Linked DNA regions of Homo sapiens. The protein of the gene in region 1 interacts with the protein of each later gene in a pairwise test. Each region holds a gene or a part of one and is shown on either strand. Other genes may lie near its edges.

The links.
Region 2: the proteins of SAMHD1 (region 1) and DYSF interact in a two-hybrid assay, tested with the Homo sapiens proteins (one large-scale study listed by BioGRID and IntAct).

The regions. Positions count from the first base shown.
Region 1 is NC_000020.11:36,945,140-36,948,958, forward strand, and holds part of SAMHD1 (deoxynucleoside triphosphate triphosphohydrolase SAMHD1), read right to left. Parts: intron 1,666-3,819; coding exon 1,599-1,665; intron 1-1,598.
Region 2 is NC_000002.12:71,511,699-71,515,517, forward strand, and holds part of DYSF (dysferlin), read left to right. Parts: intron 1-108; coding exon 109-223; intron 224-1,541; coding exon 1,542-1,634; intron 1,635-2,017; coding exon 2,018-2,223; intron 2,224-3,819. UniProt on the Homo sapiens protein: Key calcium ion sensor involved in the Ca(2+)-triggered synaptic vesicle-plasma membrane fusion.

The DNA.
Region 1 (3,819 bases):
ATCTTCCTGCTTCAGCCTCCTGAGTGTAGGTGGGACTACAGGTGCATGCACAGTACCCGGCTAATTTTTTAATTTTCTGTATCACTATCTATAAAATTTACTAAGCGTTAATCATATGCTTCAACACTTTATGTACATCATCTCATTATTGTTATCCATTTTACAGGTACAGAAACTGAAGGGTTAAATGACTTCTCCCAAATTATACAACTAAAAAGTGCCTGTTTTGCATAGTGTCTTTAAATCTAATACCAGGGCATATTCCAATCTTTAGGAAAACCTAGAAATATGCTCAAGATAGGGGTGTAGCCTTGATTTTCTTACTAACATTTTTTTCCCTATTGGTTCTTATGTATTTCCCAGTGTGTATAATTCAATTATTCTGAACTTGAGAGTAAAAAGTTGGTCACTACAAACTTGATGAAGATTTGTCTGCAACATTATTTAAAATAGGAATAAGGCCACACACGGTGGCTTATGCCTGTAATCTCAGCACTTTGGGAGGCCAAGGTGGGCAGACCTTGGCCCACCTTAGGTCAGAACTCCAGACCACCTTAGGTCAGGAGTTCGAGACCAGCCTGGCCAACATGGTGAAACCCTGTCTCTACTAAAAATACAAAACTTAGCTGGGCATGGTGGTGCATGCCTGTAATCCCAGCTACTCAGGAAGCTGAGGCAGGAGAATGGCTTGAACCCAGGGGGTTCAGTGAGCCGGGATCGCACCATTGCACTCCAGTCTGGGTGACAGAGTGAGACTCTGTCTCAATAAATAAATAAATAAATAAAATTAAAAATAAACTAAAATAGGAATAAACAGTAATAGCAAACATAGGATTTGTACAGCGAAAACAAACAGCAGGTGGCCAGTCGCGGTGGCTCACACCTGTAATCTCAGCACTTTGGGAGGCCGAGGCAAGCGGATCACTTGAGGCCAAGAGTTCAAGACCAGTCTGGCCAACATGGTGAAACCCCATCTCTACTAAAAGTACAAAAATCAGTGGGGCAGCCGGGCGCGGTAATTCCAGCACTCTGGGAGGCTGAGGCGGGCAGATCACGAGGTCAGGAGATTGACACCATCCTGGCTAACATGGTGAAACCCTGTGTCTACCAAAAAATACAAAAAAGTAGCCAGGCGTGGTGGCAGGCGCCTGTAGTCCCAGCTACTCGGGAGGCTGAGGCAGGAGAATGGCATGAACCCGGGAGGCGGAGCTTGCAGTGAGCCAAGATCACGCCACTGCACTCCAGCCTGGGAGACAGAGCGAGACTCTGTCTCAAAAAAAAAAAAAACCGAAAAAAAATTAGTGGGGCATGGTGGTGGGCACCTGTAATCCTAGCTACTCAGGAGGCTGAGGCAGGAGAATAACTTGAAGCCGGGAGGCAGAGGTTGCAGTGAGCCGAGATACTCCAGCCTGGGTGAACAAGAGACTATCTCAAAAAACAAATGAACAAACAAAACCAGCAGGCAAGGGATTCTGCTGTTTTAAAGCACTTCATAGATTTAAAATGAGGACAGTTTATATCAGAGATTTTGGGCTTTGTCCCTGAAAGATGGATAAAGTGTGTTTGGTTATAACGTGAATTTATTTCTTCATTCTTACCTTACTCCAAGATTTTCAAAACGAGACTCATCAAGACAAGGCAGTAATGCGCCTGTGATTTCATTTTCTATGGAAGAAAAAAGACAAATTCAATGTATACAACATATGCTTTTCATTTTCTTTCAATTTGGATACACCAACATTTACCCAGATCCACATAAGTGAGTACCCACTGCAGGCAATGGATTGTGCCAAGTACCACTTTTTTGATCTGCTACTTGTAAAGACTTAATTTTAATTAAATAACTAAACCAAGAAGCATTTTTTGATAAATCACGTGAAAATTTCAAAATTATTTGTGTAAATTAGTTCCAAGAAAAACCAGTTGCAAAAAGGAAAGTGAAACCCGACTACCTGTTGGGGTTTTGCCAGGTCAGCAGCTTTGAGTTGGGGAGGGAAGGAAACCTAAGTCTATTGTTCTTAGAATTAACAAGGTTTGAGTTGGGGAGGGAAGGAAACCTAAGTCTATTGTTCTTAGAATTAACAAGTTAAAACCGTGAATTCAAGAGTGCTTAAAGTGTTGATTTTTCTCAAACCTCCTGGGAAAGCACTCAATACTCTGATTTGGAAGAGGTGTGTGTGTGTGTGTGTGTGTGTGTGTGTGTGTGTGTGTCCTGGGAAAGCACTCAATACTCTGATTTGGAAGAGGTGTGTGTGATTTGGAAGAGGTGTGTGTGTGTGTGTGTGTGTGTGTGTGTGTGTGTCCTGGGAAAGCACTCAATACTCTGATTTGGAAGAGGTGTGTGTGTGTGTGAGTGTGTGTGTGTGTGTGTGTGTCCTGGGAAAGCACTCAATACTCTGATTTGGAAGAGGGGTGTGTGTGTGTGTGTGTGTGTGTGTGTGTGTGTGTGTGTTGTTGGGTTTTTTCCTTTCTCTTTCTATACAATTAATTCTAATCTTTCCTGACCTCAAATTCCAGAACTCTGGACTATTTTCTTTTATTTTCTTTGAGACAGGGTTTTGCTTGTTGCCCAGGTTGGAGTGCAGTGGTGCGATCACATCTCACTGCAGCCTTGACCTCCTGGGCTCAAGCGATCCTCCTGCCTCAGCCTCCTGAGTAGCTGGGACCACAGGCATGTGCCACTGCACCTAGCTAATTTTTATTTTTATTTTTTGTAAAGTTGAGGTCTCCTGATGTTGCCCAGGCTGGTCTTGAATTCTTGGGCTCAAGTGATCTTCCCACACTGGCCTCCCAAAGTGCTGGGATTATAGGTATGAGCCACTGGGCCAGGCCTCCAGTGGTTTTTGATGAGAATACTTGTTAAGGTATAGATCACATGAGTTCTAGAGTCCAAAGACCTAACCTTAAAAAATCTAGCTCTTTTTTGTAGTGGTGTGATCTCTGAAAAGTTACTTTACATCTTTGGACCTCGCATACATCATCGGTAAAATGTGTTGAGTGTAGTAACTTATTTCAGACTTCTTGTGAGGCTGTATTCCATAATGAGAAAAGGGACACTGTACCTTGTGCTTGGCTTATCAAATTAAAAAAAAAATGGACTTAGATAAAGAGAGACTTTTTTTTTCTTTTCCGAGATGGAGTCTCACTCGGTCGCCCAGGCTGGAGTGCAGTGGCGGGATCTTGGCTCACTGCAACCTCCGCCTCCCAGGTTCAAGTGATTCTCCTGCCTCAGCTTCCCAAGTAGCTGGGACTACAGGCACATACCACCATGCCCGGCTAATTTTTGTATTTTTAGTAGAGACGGTGTTTCACCATGTTGGCCAGGCTGGGCTTGAATTCCTGACCTCAGGTGATCTACCTGCTTCGGCCTTCCAAAGTGCTGGGATTACAGGCGTGAGCCACCGTGCCCGGCCAAGAGAAACTTTATTAGAAAGAAAGACTATTGCTGGTCGGGCGTGGTGGCTCACACCTGTAATCCCAGCACTTTGGGAGGCCAAGGCGTGTGAATCATCAGGTCAAGAGATTAAGACCATCCTGGCCAACATGGTGAAACCCCATCTCTACTAAAAATACAAAAATTAGCCAGGTGTGGTGGTGGGCACCTGTAGTCACAGCTACTCAGGAGGCTGAGGCAGGAGAATTGCTTGAACCCGGGAGGCAGAGGTTACAGTGAGCCGAGATCACACCACTGCATTTCAGCCTGGCGACAGAGCGAGACTCTGTCTCAAAAAAAAAAAAAAAAGAAAAGAAAAAAAGAAAAGAAAAGAAGAAAGACTATTTCTACAGGGAGAAAGCTCCAATATCAGATATCTGCAAGAG
Region 2 (3,819 bases), on another chromosome or scaffold:
TCAGAGCCATATTCCTTGGTGGAGGGATGCCAGAAACAGGGAAGATACTGGAGGGCAGTGGTCCGAGGCCAGCGCACCAACCTGTCCCCCACGTCTCATCTCTTCCAGGCCTCGCTGGTCCTGCAGGTGTCCTACACACCGCTGCCTGGAGCTGTGCCCCTGTTCCCGCCCCCTACTCCTCTGGAGCCCTCCCCGACTCTGCCTGACCTGGATGTAGTGGCAGGTGGGTAGCCCACGTTGGCCTGGCTGGGCCCCAGCAAGAAGGCCGGCAGTGGCACTTGAGCCTGGGGGCTGGGAGCTGCAGCGAGGCTTCCCAGCCTTTGCTGCCCTCCCCAGGTTGGAGGCTGCCCAGGCCTGGAAAGAAGAGGGTGCAGTGGGTGGGAAGTCCTGAGGGCTGCCTTCTGCTGTGCAGAAAGAAGGGGCAGCAGGCACGTTCCCTTGGGCGGTGCAGGGAGTAATGTGAGGGTGCCTCCAAGCCCCAGCTGCCTGGGGACGGGGCTGAGCCCAGGCTGGGTGTTCTGAGCTGTGCAGTTCCAAGAAGGGTGTGTGGGGATGGGGTCTGACCCAGGTGATACCTGAGGCCCCACAAACTCCCCAGAACCGAATGTTTCCCTACCTCAGCACCCAGCAGGCCTTTGGTGATGGTGTGTGACAAAAGAACTAGTTTTTTTTCTTGAAAGAGCCCTGAACTGAACTTCAGGGTTCCAGTCCTGCCTTTGACACTGAGTCTCTGTGTGACTTTGGGCTGATTACTTTCCCTCTCTGGGCCCATAGATTATTTGTGAAGGGAGCAGACTAAGTTAGCTAAGTGCTGTGCCTGTCTCAGCTCTCTTCACTTGGTTCTGCCAGGCTGGTCAAGCGAGGACCCAGCCCGGGGTGGCTGGCTCTCCACTGGTGGGCCTGGGTGTGGGAGCCTCCATGTGGTCCAGCCTGCTGGGGTTGGGAGGAAGCTACATAGACGGGCTAGTGGGCACTTGCCCATGGGAAAGATTCTAGAGTTTTTCTCTTAGTGAAGGGAGCTAGAAGCAAGCACAGCATTAAAACCGGAGCAGCCCATGTCTCAATTGAGTGTGCCCTGTGCCTGACCTGGGGCCAGCCCAGCACAGGGCTCTGTGGTGAGGTCGGCAGAGCAGAGCTGTCTTGTTGGGGCTCAGCACTGTCCGAGCTTAGAGATGGGAGATCAGTCTGGACTGGAGTAACCTGGTAATCCTGAGCTGTGTGGCTGGAGTGGGCTCAGGGGAGGAAGGAGAGGTGCCCGTGGTGGCAGAGGGTGGGGAGCAGGGAGGGTCCGAATACTCTGGGACTGTGTTGAGGTGGATCTGACAGAGTTAGGTGCAGGCCAATCAGTGGAGGCTTCCAGACACGCCTGGGAGGTGGTGAGAAGGAACAGGTGCCACTGGGCTCCACAGCTATTTCTGAGCTTTGCACCAGGCTGGGGTGGGCGGGGAAGGCAGGGTTGGGGATGGAGGTGCAGTAGGTTGGTTTCCTTCACCCCAACCTCCTCCCTCCCCTCCCGGGGTTATGCCCTGCCCACAAGACAGGCGGGGGACAGAGCCGGGCCGAGACTTGGTCCCTGCTCAGTGACAGCACCATGGACACGAGATACTCTGGAAAGAAGTGGCCGGCCCCCACGGGTGAGACACGGGCCAGGACTGTCCTGATCCCAGACCCTCCCTGTAACTGTCTCACTAGCTGCCATGGTCAGCTTGCTGGAGCGGGGCCAGGTGGCAGAGGACTCCTCCTGCAGGACTTGGCGGGTGGGAGGGCTAGGGCCATTCTGTTTTCTTCCTGTTGACTAACTGGACTGACTGCCCTCAAGTTTCAGCTGCTGGAAGCTCCTCTTCTTTCTACCTTATCCATCCTGGCTCACTGATGGGGAGGGAGGAGGGAGAGGAAGAGGGGATGAGTCTTAGGGCCCATGCCTTTTGGATCTTCTGCCCCCTGGGCTGGGTCCCAGGGGCAGGGGCAGGGGCAGGGCCAGAGGGATCCAGGCCTCATTAGGGCCCTCTCCTCTTAGACACAGGAGGAGAGGAAGACACAGAGGACCAGGGACTCACTGGAGATGAGGCGGAGCCATTCCTGGATCAAAGCGGAGGCCCGGGGGCTCCCACCACCCCAAGGAAACTACCTTCACGTCCTCCGCCCCACTACCCCGGGATCAAAAGAAAGCGAAGTGCGCCTACATCTAGAAAGCTGCTGTCAGACAAACCGCAGGATTTCCAGGTGATGAACGGGCTTTCTCTGACCCCAGGCTCCTCTTCAGCCATCAGCTGCGGGTGCCAGGCACCTGCCTGGTTTGTCCAGCTTCAGGGGAAGATGTGTGTGGGATCCTCAGGGCCCTCCTGTGGGGGAATCTGTAGTTTCCCTGGGCCTGGGCAGATGCCAAACAGGGAGTTCACATCTTACATCCACAGAATAAGCTTCTGCCGAGACCTGTGGTTTTGCGCTTAAAAAAAAAAAAAAAAAAAAAGTCACTGCAGAGATTCAGCATGTCTTTGCATCTCTGATCAGAGAAAAACCTGATTTTTCTAACCAGGGTATATCCAACCAGCAAGCTCCTGGCTATTCAGGTGTGGTCTGTGTCCAGCACCTTCCGCATCACCTGTATACTTGTTAGACATGCAGAGTCTACTCAGACCTGCTCTACCAGAATCTGCATTTTAACAAGATCCTTACCTCAAAGAAGCTCTGTCTAACATCTTTTTTTTCTCCTTATATCTATCCCCCTGCATATAGCCATGGATTTTTCTGAGAGTCATGTGGAATTTGAATTTGTTCAAGCTCATCACAGAATAAAAGCTATTAATATGAACACTTTGACACATTTTTATCCAAAAATCCATCCCATTTTATTTGCTTTTAACTTTGGTCCTTTGCCTATTTTTTTTTTCTTTTCAAAAGAATTTTCTATTTTGATGTAGTCACACAGTGATATTTAACTCTTTACAACTACTTTTAAGGTTAAAAGCAAGAATCTTAAATCTCTATTTATAATACTAAGTGCAACAAATTGCAAAAATATATTTCTATTCTAAATCATGGTAATTTAAGCAGAAGTCCTAGCTCTAACCACTGTTTGCCCCAAAAGACAAAATTCTAGCCCCCATACTACTATTCCCCAAACATGTTCATATTGCCTTTGTTCTCTTTATGGAAATACCATATGTTTATTTTAGACACTTTGGAAAATATATTAAAATGAGGAGATTAAAAATCACTCATCCATCTTCCCATTGCTATTAAGAATATATCCTCCCATATTATGCAATTTACAAAAAAAAAAACAGTTGGTCAGTAAATAACAGTTGATTCTAAAGTGGAGCCAGTAAATATCTTATTTTTTTCCATAGAATTGCCTTAATATTGTAAAATTTCATATTTTAAAATATCTTACCTAATATTTGGAAGCATAGACGTTCTTGAAGTCTTCATTTACTTACAGCTCAATGGCAAAAATTCTTAATTTATTTCTCAGAATGTAAGAAAGCATTGCATCTTATAAAGAATAAAGACTATTTCTGGGGTCACTTCACTGTGTAAGTTCGACCTCTGAGGGAATTGTCAATAAAGAATATTCAAGCCACTTAAAAATGCCAGTATCAATGGGGTCTCGGGTGGGGCTTGTGCCAATGGCTGAATGACATAAATGGGGGCTGTATCTGCCCACCCCTGGGGTTTAATGTGGGTAGCCGACGAGGGGCAGCCTGGCAGCTCTTCTATGGAGCTGTGGAATTTTATAGATGTAAGGGGCCTTGGTGGGAAAATATGATAGTTCGTATAATGCTCTTCCTAATTCCTTTTTAATACTTTCCCCAAGAA